4 separate regions of the Homo sapiens genome follow, and all the other regions are linked to region 1. Evidence: fine-mapped expression QTL. A gene starts in region 1. Each other region holds a variant in brackets. All regions are shown on one strand. Distances are between the middles of the regions.

Region 1 (2,681 bases):
ACTATCAATATGGCAGATGACAAACACATACACACACCGCGCACATTTACGTACGCAGCCCAGAACTCTCCTAAGATCTCCAAACCCACTATATCCAACTGCCTACTTGACATTCCCTCTCAGGTATCTCTTCCAGTTAGACACTTGTCAGGAATTGCCACCTCAATAAAGGAATTTATACAGAGCTGAAATTTTGAGAGGAATACCCCAAAACCACTTTAGGACAACTCTTCAGGACACAGGATTTTATCATCAATCATCATTTCCTTTCATGGATCATGACTTAAAATAGTTACATCTAACAACCTGATCTGGCGGCTAGAAATGGGCGCAAGGAAATGCACAACAAAAATACAATTCATGTTTTGCAGTGAGGACTGGTCAAGAGGAAGGTGAAGATGGTCAAGAGAGTGAATGAGTATCATGTCCAAGGCCTGGTGGATGTGCCGTAACGAAAGTCACCTGAAGAGACAGCAGGCCCTGTTAGAAGGTAAGAGGCGAACGACAACAGCCCCAGAGAAAAGGGGCCAGGTTTGAGTTTCGGAGGGAGCGAGTGGCAGTGGAGACCAAGTCAAAGGAGAGGTGGAAGCCGGGGCAGTGCACCCAAAGGTAGTACCTGTGAGGCTGGGGGTGCATCGAGGGGTTGTGGGCGGGCTGAGTAGCAGCAGGGCGAACTCCAGAGGAGTGAACGCCGAGTGGGCGGATCGCACAGAAGGAGGAGGAGGTAGGGAAAACGGCTCAATTGAGAAGCTACCCCGGCCCGCCTTACCTGCGCCGAGGGTCCGGAGCCCCCGGACAGACCCGCGGAAAGCACGGAGCCCGCGAGGAGTGGGAGGAGCCGAGGGTAATGGAAGTAGGGATACCGAACCCAAAGGAGGGAGGCCGCTAGCTACCCCTAGTCAGGGAGAGCGGCTGATGGCGGGAACTGTGACCACACGCAAACACGCACGCACGCACGCACACTCGACGCGACCAGACAGGCGCGTGCGCGTCAGTCGAAAACTCCGCCCCTCACACGCCCTCGCCCCGCCCCGCCAGTACCTAGAGCGGCCTAGCCCGGGCAGCCCCGCCCCTGCCGTGACTGTAGTAGGCACGCGCACTTTCCACCTCACCCGATTTCGACGCCCCCCCACCATTTCCCTCCTACGCAACCCAGTCGGGCATGCGCAATAGTTGTCTTGCCGGGACTGTCCATCTTTTCCCGCCGTTCACTGGCTTTTGGAGGAGGGTCAGAGTTCACGCCGCTCTCTGGAAATAACTGCTCAAAGCCAGAAGTTGCGGGGACTAGTGGTCGCGGACGTCCTTCCGGTCCTAAATCTTAAGGGGCAAAGGACATACTCTGGGACTGTTAACTAGGCCCTGGAGGCGGGAAGAGGATGTGTGGGTGGGGTCAGGGGTGAGAGGTCAGAGGGCCGCGAAGTGGGCGGAGCGAGCCGGAGTCGGATGGCGGCTACGGCGGCTCATTGTTTTCCGCTGCAGGGGTGCTGAAGGGGGGACGCGGGTCGGACGCGTCCGGCTGTGGAAGAGAGCGGCGGCCGCTCACAACATGCACAGCCTGGCGACGGCTGCGGTGAGTGGCTGGGCCCCCAGGCTTGGAACCAGAATCCTTTCTCAGACCCACGTTTCGGCCTTCTCTCCTAATTCCCGGTGTCGGGTCCCTAGTCTGATTTTTTTCTGCCCTCAATCTCCAAGGCCCCGGTTCCCCTCCTCGGCACGCTTTGGTTGTGGTGGAGCCGGCCCCTATTTCCTTGCCGGACGCCTCTCGCGGCCTTCAGCGCGACCCATCGCGTTCTTTGCGGGCGCCGGGGCCTGGTCCCACGCCCGTAGCAGGCCATTCATTGATTTATTGCGCTGACCAACAGTTTCAGGGCGCCAGTTGTGTTCTGGGCGCCGGCGTCGATGAGGGGAATTCCATGGTCAATCTGACGCGGCCCCTGCTCTTAGAACTCACCACGTCGCAGCGGGAAGGAAATGGCTTCTAGTTCAAACCACTTGCTTTATTTATGGAAAACCTGAGGCCCGGAAAAGTGCATAATTTTTGCATCTGACTTAGGTTCTCTGCATTTAAAACTTTTCCTCGACACATCTCGTTTTACCCGCGTGATCTTTTAACAAAAAAGAAAGATAGTGTAATTCAGCTATCCGAAGTAATCCTACTTCTCTTGGCATTTAAATAAAATCTAGACTCCTTGCCATAGCCTGCACGGCCCTGTATGATGTGGTACTTAACCCACGTTTATAATCTCGTTTTATGTCTCTTGCTCCTAAAGCTTCAGCTACTCTGGCCACCTAACCCTCTGCAACGCGCTTATTTTTCTCCAAGATGCACTTTGTGGTCTCTATGCCTGGAGTGAATGTTCTTCTTATCCCTCCTCCTTTACATACACAGCATGAGTGTAATTGGTACCTCTTCCTTGAACTCTCCTTCCTCTCCTTAAACTGTTTATCCAAATCCATCTTTCTTCAGGTCTCTGCCTAAATCGGTCTCAGAGTGGCCTTCCCTGACTATCCTCTTCAAATTAGTTCCGCAGCCTCTAACTTTAGTAGAGTACCCTTTACAGCCCTGATCCCCGTGTAATTATTGTATTCGTTTATTTGTTGTCTGTCTCCTTGAGGGCAGGGACAGGGATCATGTGAGCCCTGTTGACGTGGTTTCCCCGGTGCCAGGACAGTTCCTAGTA
Region 2 (2,681 bases), 140 kb before region 1:
CCAAAGTGCTGGGATTACAGGCGTGAGCCACTGTGCCTGGCACAAGCAAGTTATTTCTGAGATGAGGCAAGGGAGGCCCAGAGAGGAGAAGCCATGTCTCAGAGAGTCAATGGTAGAGCTGGGCCATGACTCAGGGCTCCTAACCGCCAGCCTAGTGCACTTGCCCTGTGCCACGCTCCCCCATAGTCCTGGACGGCACGTGTGTGGGAGGTCACACAGAGCTGGAGGGGCTGTGGGAGCCCAGGGTCTCGGGTACACTGGACACCTTTTCCCTAGATCCACAAGACAGCCAGCAGCCTGTCCTATGACATCCACTACTGGATTGGCCAGGACTCATCCCTGGATGAGCAGGGGGCAGCTGCCATCTACACCACACAGATGGATGACTTCCTGAAGGGCCGGGCTGTGCAGCACCGCGAGGTCCAGGGCAACGAGAGCGAGGCCTTCCGAGGCTACTTCAAGCAAGGCCTTGTGTAGGGAGGGTGGGCTGCAGGCCGGGGGAATGAGGATGAGTGGTAGGGATAGAGATGTTGGGGCTGAGCTGAAGAGGCAGGGACACCCAGACCTGTTCAGGCCTGGGAAGAACACTTGGAGCAGGGGGAGGTGACCTGGGGCGGGGAAGGGACCCTGAAGCTGTGGGGGGAGGCACGAGGGGGACCCTCATGAGTTTTTGGTGATTGTCCCTCACCTTTCCACTCCCTAACTCTTATTTCTGCCACTGCTCTGTCCTTGGTCTGGAGGCTGTTCTGAAATTCTATAACTCTCGTGAATCTCTGTAAATCAGCTCCTACTTGAATGTCCTGGAGAGCTCAGTGCCTAATCAAGCCCCCCAACTCTGGCCAACGGGCAAATGGCTGCTCCCCCATCTCTAATGCAGGCCTATCACACTAAAAACCAAGACCGACAGCTTTTCTTTTTCTTCCTTTTTTTTTTTGAGATGGAGTCTTGCTTTGTTGCCCAGGCTGGAGTACAGTGGCACAGTCTTGGCTCACTGCAAACTCCGCCTCCTGGGCTCAAGC[G/A]ATTCTCATGCCTCAGCCTCCCCAGTAGCTGGGATTACAGGCACACACCACCAGGCCTGGCTAATTTTTGTATTTTTAGTAGAGACAGGGTTTCACCACGGGCAGGCTGATCTCAAACTCCTGACCTCAAGTGATCCATCTGCCTCAGTCTCCCAAGGTGCTGGGATTATAGGCGTGAGCCACTTCGTCTGGCCCCACCTCAGCCTCTTGAGTAACTGGGACTACAGGCCCGAGCCACCATGCCCAGCTAATTTTTTTTTTTGAGACAGAGTCTTGTTCTGCCGCCCAGGCTGGAGTGCAGTGGCGCGATCTCAACTCACTGCAAGCTCTGCCTCCCAGGCTCACGCCATTCTCCTGCCTCAGCCTCCCCAGCAGCTGGGACTACAGGTGCCCACCACCACGTCCGGCTAATTTTTTTGTATTTTTAGTAGAGACAGGGTTTCACCGTGTTAGCCAGGATGGTCTCAATCTCCTGACCTCATGATCTGCCCGCCTTGGCCTCCCAAAGTGCTGGGATTACAGGCGTGAGCCACCATGCCTGGCCAGCACTAATTTTTTAATATATATATTTTGTAGAGACGAAGGTCTTGCTCTGTTGCCCAGGCTGGTCTCATACTCCTGGGCTCAAGTGATTCTCCCACCTCAGCCTCCTGAAGTCCTGGGATTACAGGCATGAGCTACCACTCCCAGCCCAGACTGCTGGCTTTTCTATACAAGTTGAAGTTCTAGCTTAGCTTTCCCCAGGAAAACACACACTCTGGAGCTGAGTTGTTACTGACCTGTAGGACAGGCTGAGGGCTCTCTAATTAGCCACAGTTCCCACTCTTTTTTTGTCTTGCTCCTCTCTTCCCACGCTATGGCAGTAGTCCACTGCCATGGGCACTGGAGTGGCACCTCTCCATTCTTTTCTTTTCTTCCACTTTGATCCCCTGTCCTCAGGATTCTGTCCCTATTTATTAATACATTTCCTTTTTTTTTTTTTTTGAGATGGAGTCTCACTCTGTCGCTTAGGCTAGAGTGCAATGGTGCGATCTCGGCTCACTGCAAACCTCCGCCTCCTGGGTTCAAGCAATTCTTCTGCCTCAGCCTCCTGAGTAGCTGGGATTACAGGCACCCGCCACCATGCCCAGCTAATTTTTTGTATTTTTAGTAGAGATGGGGCTTCACCATGTTGGCCAGGCTGGTCTGGAACTCCTGACCTCAAATGATCTGCCCACCTCGGCCTCCCAAAGTGCTGGGATTATAGGTGTGAGTCACCGCACCTGGCCTATTAATATATTTCCTACTCTTAATATATCATGACCCTATCTTTGCAGGCCTCTCCACAGGGCAGGGACTAGGGCAAGACGAGTGAAGATCTAGGGTGCAGACTTTAAGGTTGCTCTCACTGTCAGGGTCGTGCAAGGGCATGCCACAGGCAGACCTTGCACTTTCAGGACCTGACAGTGAGTGACTCCCTAAAGTTTGCGCCCTCAGCACCTCATTGACCTCGCCTACTCCCACCCTGGCCCTCACGTGACCCCAGCGTGGCAGCCAGGACCTGGGAGAACAGGGGCCAGGCACACCTCCCAGCCCACTTCCTTGGGTCAGCTCACCTCTCTTCTCAGGATCCGGAAAGGGGGCGTGGCTTCTGGCATGAAGCACGTGGAGACCAACTCCTAT
Region 3 (2,681 bases), 130 kb before region 1:
AGACCCAGTCTTGCTGCTATCTATGGTGTGGGAAGGTGTGTTCAGGGTCTAGAGGCCTCCCCATCCGCAAGTGGGTCCTGGGAGTCCCCCAGTTTCGCAGCAGCCCTAGGTCAGGGCAGGAACCCCTGGCCAACTAAGTTGTGCCTGCTCAATTCTCAGCCGCCTCTGGAGCCCAGTCTCTCCCTCCTCAGTAGCTCTGGGTCTATCCTTCTGCCTCATCAATGACCATCCTCAGATTCTCTGCCTCTCTGTCGGAGTCAGTCTCTCTTGTTCTGTTTCTCTGGCCACCTCCATCTGTCCCTGTGTTGGTCTGTCTTTATGTCTTGGGCTCTCTCTCACTACCCTGAGCCTGTCACTGCCTCTCCTTTGATCTCTGTAAGAAGAATGCATAGCCTCTTGGAGTCCCTCTCGAACCTTGAAAAGACTCTCTAGTTTCTTCTGCTATTCTTTGGAGTGTCAAGGACAGAAGAAAGCATGGAATTGTCCCTGTGTGGCCTGTATACACAAGGTCCTGACCCAGGAGAGCCCTCTTTGACCCCTGAACTCTGGGCAGTGAATGTAGTAGGAGGGTGGAGGTAGGGGTGGCACTAGAAATTAGCCAACTCTTTTTTTTCCTAGGGTTGTAGCGGGGACGAGCGGGAGATGGCCAAGATGGTTGCTGACACCATCTCCCGGACGGAGAAGCAAGTGGTGGTGGAAGGGCAGGAGCCAGCCAACTTCTGGATGGCCCTGGGTGGGAAGGCCCCCTATGCCAACACCAAGAGGTAACTCTCAGGTCCCTCCGCCTCCAGGTTACCAAGGTGGGGGAGCCGCCCAGCATCTCCATCCCTACACCCAGAGCCTACAGCAGGCATGGACTGAGGACTCTGTGTGTCAGGCACTGTGCCAGACCCCCAGGGCTACAAGATGAATAAAGGGCAGCCCATACCCTTGGAGCCTCTTGGCACAGGGGCTGTGTCTGTGCTGCTCACTACAGTATGCCCAGGACCTGGTGGGGTATTTCCTTGGCAAAGGGAATTCCTGGCCATAGGAGGCAGCTCAAAGCAAGGGGCAGGGCTAGAGGTTTGCCTTTCAGTAACAAGATGCCAGAGGCCAGCCTGCTTTTAGGTCCTGACACAGGCCTGGGATGCTGAGGAGCCCCAGCCACAAGCCCTCTTTCAAATGGTTTTGTTTTGTTTTTGTGACAGAGTCTCGCTCTGTCAACTAGGCTGGAATGCAGTGGTGCAATCTCAGCTCACTGCAGCCTCTGCCTCCGCCTCCCAGGTTCCAGCAATTCTCCTGCTGCAGCCTCCTGCGTAGCTGAGATTACAGGCGCCCACCACCGTGCCCGGCTAATTTTTGTATTTTTAGTAAAGACAGGGTTTCACCATGTTGGCCAGGCTGGTCTTGAACTCCTGACCTCAGGTGATCCACCTGCCTCAGCCTCCCAAAATGCTAGGATTACAGGTGTGGGCCACGGTG[A/C]CTGGCTCAAATGGTTTTTCTAGAGAATATCCATGATCTACTAGTCCCTAGTTCAAAAGCAAAAGGGCATGTACTGTAGTAGCAGTAGGAGGGATGGAGGGAAGATATCAGGAAGAACTTCCTAACAAGGCTCTGCAAAAGACACTGGAATGCATGTCCAGAAAGCAGTGACAATTTCTTCCTCAGAGCACTCTTGGAATGAGAGGGGACCCTTTTATCAATCAGAAGATAGAGCATTTTGCTGGAGATGACCTTTCTATGCCAGAGTCCCTTCCTCAGAGTTCTGTGTCCTCAATTCTCCTTTTGCCACACCTTCCTTCTGCCAGTACAATCTTCTCTCCATCCTGCAGACTACAGGAAGAAAACCTGGTCATCACCCCCCGGCTCTTTGAGTGTTCCAACAAGACTGGGCGCTTCCTGGCCACAGAGATCCCTGACTTCAATCAGGATGACTTGGAAGAGGATGATGTGTTCCTACTAGATGTCTGGGACCAGGTAGGACCAAGGGCCTGGGGACCCCTCTTCCCAGCCACCTCAATCCCCAGGGCCAAGAAAGAGTGGCTTTAAGGTTAGGTAAGTGTCAATGTTTTCTTGGCCCTTACATAATTTCTCCCTGGAAATGGTATGAACACCAGAAGTGTAAGAAAGAAGGAAGGTGGGGAGGAACATGCTCAGAGGGGCTGCAGGGAAGAACGTATTCTCTCCCAAAGTCCTATTTATTTCACATGGCAGCAGGAGTGTTTTTGAGAATCCTGGGCTTTGGACAGTCTGGGAGACACACATTTGCAGAATATCCAAGTACAAGGCATCTGTCCAACCTTCTAATTTCCCAGATACAAATTCAAGGCCAGATGATGCCTGCCCTAGGTCATTTGGCTGGTAGTGGTAGAGTCAGGGTCAAGGTCAGGGTTTCACTGTTGGACAACTGAGGCAGAGCCCTGTGGGCCAGGGAGGACAGGAAGGATGGACTGATCCCCTGGGTTTCTCAATAGGTCTTCTTCTGGATTGGGAAACATGCCAACGAGGAGGAGAAGAAGGCCGCAGCAACCACTGCACAGGAATACCTCAAGACCCATCCCAGCGGGCGTGACCCTGAGACCCCCATCATTGTGGTGAAGCAGGGACACGAGCCCCCCACCTTCACAGGCTGGTTCCTGGCTTGGGATCCCTTCAAGTGGAGTGTGAGTGGCCTCATCCCAGCATGTCCTTCTCTAGCCCTG
Region 4 (2,645 bases), 330 kb after region 1:
CTGGCCCTCTGAGGCTTACGGTCTTGGCAAGGCAGCATCGCCTTGGCTCTTGGGAAGAGGAGATTGGACCACATGATCTTATAGGAACCCCTCAGCTCTGAGGTCTGTGATCGCCGGACAGTCCAGGCCTGTCTGAACCCCACCACTCACTTCTGTGGGCTCTAGGACTGACTGGGTTCTTCCTCCCTCCCCGAAGCCCAGACAGTTCAGTTGGGCTGGGGGTTGCTCCACACCCTAAAACAAGCCTCAGCCAGGCAACCCGTCAGTCTGTCTCCATCCTTTCACCCCTTCCCTGGAGATGGGAGGTGGGGAATGAATGGAAGCTGACGGGCAGAGAGAGGAGGATTAAAAAAAAGAAATAGACATAACTGAGCTGAAGTAATTCCATAAAGGGCCCAGACAGCCTCCTCCACCATTCCCTTCATCATTCATTTAACAAATATTTATTTTGCACTCTCTTTGCGGCACTCTGGGGGCGGTGGGGTGCGTGGGGGTGGCAATGCAAGGCACTGAGGCCACAGATGTGAGTAAGCGAGACACAACACTTGTCCTCTTGGAGGTTACATTCTTGCTGGGGGGAGGCATGGGCAATAAACAAGTAAATATACAAACAAGGTCATTTCAGACAATGCTGTGTGCAGGCTGCTGGGTGTAGGGGGATTTATGGGGAGTGGGGCTCCTCAGACAAAGCCACTGTTTTTTCAGGGAAGGCCTCTGTGAGTTGTGATACCTATGCTGGGACCTGCATCATAAGCCATGCAAAGAGTATGGGTAAGGGCATTCCAGGCAGAGGCCATGTGAAGGCAGAAAGTGTGAGCTGAGAAAGATCTCTGCCTGCTGGAGAAACAGCAAAGGGGCCATTGTGATTGCAGTGAAGAAATCAAGGGACAGACTAGCAGGAGAGGTGTTCAGAGGGTGGGCAAAGGTCACATCGTGTGTCTCTCTAAGCCAAAGTAAGGAGTTGGGGTTTTATTAAAGAGGAATGGGAACCTTGAGATCCTTAAGCAGGGGAGTGTCCTGGTCCAAGTCTCACATGGATCGCTGATGGGGAACTGGCTGAAGGGGGATGAGGTGACAGCTGGTAAGCCAGTGAGGAATAACAACCATCTTCTAAGTCAGAGATGGGGCTTGGACTGGTTGTAAGCAGTGGGGATGTCGAGAAGGGCTCTGGTGCCAGAGCTCTAACCGC[C/T]CACCTTGTGCCTGAGCCCTCTGCCACAAGCCAGGACGAGTGGCCGTGCCCAGCAGCAACTGTCTGCAGAGACAGGAGGCACTCAGAGGAGTAATCCTGGGCAAGACCCAGCTCAGCCCAGCCCAGCGCCCCGGGGAGCAGGTGGGGCCAGGAGGCGCGGCTGGGAAAAGGGTGGCGGAGGAGGGCCCGGAGACTCACTGTCTGGATTCTGGTCTCTCTGAGTCCAGGCAGGGTATGTAAGTAAGGTGCAGGGGGCACATTCTTCCTGGGCCTCTTGTGCTCCCAGATCCCCATATCAGGGTGCTCCTTAGCAGGTCAGCAATCCTTCCCCACCCTCATGTCCCTGTGAGGACACTGTTGAGCAGTTTGGGTCCAGTGTTGCACTCTCCTTCGCTCTCGGATCTGATGTTTTCTGGAACAGACCCTCAAGGAGGAGGGCGGTGGAGAAGGGAGTGAGGTCAGGATCTCAGGGAAAGAACACTTTACCTACTGCATCCAGGCCTCTTGCTGCTCACACTTGAGGATCCCGCTGGCTGCCTCAATTTACCCTAGAATAGCACCCCTCTTGATGAACCAGGCAAGGATGAAGACTTGTTCCTTTCCCCAGTGATCAGCCAGCACAAATCCTCCATACTTTCCACCCCTGATCCATGTCTCCCTACCCCTGAGTAGAAGTGAGAAGGAAATGGGGGCCTCTTAGTGATACACCCCAGTAGGCCCACCAGCTGGAAGATTTGCCTCCATGAGCTTGCCCCTCATCTCCTTCCCCTCCAAATGCCAGCAGCTCGCAGGCATGCCTGTGGCAGAGGGGCTTCCGAATGCTCAGCTCTGCTGCTTCTCTGGAGGACAGGGTTTCTTTCCCCATCCCCCAAAAGACAGCCCCACAGGCGGGCGGGTGAGAGTCCCCCAGGAGGAGGGGTAGGCAGGAGCAGCCAGACACACCTGCCTCATTCCTTTCCTCTTGATCACCTAGGAGAGAGCTGTGGGGGCTGGGTTTTCCACCCGCTTCCTCCCTCCCATCCCAGGGAGGAGGAGAGAAGAGGTGGGGGAAATGGAGGCCTAGGGTTGAGGGGGTGCTGCCATGCCCAGCAGTGTCCACTGCAACATTAGCCTTGGCCTAACCCTCCTCTGCCTTCAAGGCTTAAGGAGGATGACCAAGCTGGGGGAGGGGAGACTGAAGATGAGAGGTAGAGGATCAGGACTGGGATAAGAAGGTGGGAGCAGCCATGCTGCAGAGCATGTGTTGAATGCAGAGAGAGGGGTGGGTGGTTGGGTGGGGCAGGGGGCTGGACCCGGAGTTGTAGGGAGGACACATGTTTTAATGACATAAGTCAAGGTGATCTGATATGTGTTAGCCTAACTTGTGAAGCCCAGAAGCTGATGAGTTCTGGGACCAAAGGTGACGCCCACGGTTGAAAGGGGTTGTATGGGACTTGATAAGGGACCTAAATTAGGA

Direction of the effects. Positions count from the first base shown, and alleles are read on the strand shown. Sizes are in standard deviations (SD) of each study's normalised expression. Not every link is listed here.
As copies of C replace T in region 4, the expression in lymphoblastoid cells of the gene that starts at base 1,431 in region 1 goes down (large effect, 1.1 SD a copy in TwinsUK).

The links.
Region 2: its variant is fine-mapped to the expression of CNOT9 in whole blood (TOPMed, PIP 0.97).
Region 3: its variant is fine-mapped to the expression of CNOT9 in blood mononuclear cells (TOPMed, PIP 0.93).
Region 4: its variant is fine-mapped to the expression of CNOT9 in lymphoblastoid cells (TwinsUK, PIP 0.91).

What each region holds. Positions count from the first base shown.
Region 1 is chr2:218,567,409-218,570,089 of GRCh38, forward strand. CNOT9 (CCR4-NOT transcription complex subunit 9) reads left to right here and starts at 1,431. Exons shown (of 8, transcript NM_005444.3): 1 at 1,431-1,570. The coding sequence starts at 1,547. USP37 (ubiquitin specific peptidase 37) reads right to left here and starts at 943. Exons shown (of 26, transcript NM_020935.3): 1 at 770-943. RefSeq lists enhancers at 786-1,413, 1,414-2,041, 1,836-2,025 and silencers at 906-975, 1,066-1,125.
Region 2 is chr2:218,425,339-218,428,019 of GRCh38, forward strand. It overlaps VIL1 (villin 1), which reads left to right. Exons shown (of 20, transcript NM_007127.3): 4 at 277-473; 5 at 2,627-2,681. Among named protein-coding and RNA genes, the nearest start is that of VIL1, 7.6 kb to the left of the region's middle. RefSeq lists a silencer at 451-668. The variant G/A (reference allele first, on the strand shown) is at 1,020.
Region 3 is chr2:218,434,671-218,437,351 of GRCh38, forward strand. VIL1 (villin 1) reads left to right here. Exons shown (of 20, transcript NM_007127.3): 14 at 1-35; 15 at 619-764; 16 at 1,812-1,956; 17 at 2,454-2,642. Among named protein-coding and RNA genes, the nearest start is that of VIL1, 17 kb to the left of the region's middle. The variant A/C (reference allele first, on the strand shown) is at 1,462.
Region 4 is chr2:218,893,318-218,895,962 of GRCh38, forward strand. It overlaps WNT10A (Wnt family member 10A), which reads left to right. Exons shown (of 4, transcript NM_025216.3): 4 at 1-611. LOC105373882 (a long non-coding RNA gene) reads right to left here. Exons shown (of 3, transcript XR_923916.3): 2 at 1,388-1,601; 3 at 1,160-1,252. Among named protein-coding and RNA genes, the nearest start is that of WNT10A, 14 kb to the left of the region's middle. RefSeq lists an enhancer at 1-16 and a silencer at 1,990-2,284. The variant C/T (reference allele first, on the strand shown) is at 1,190.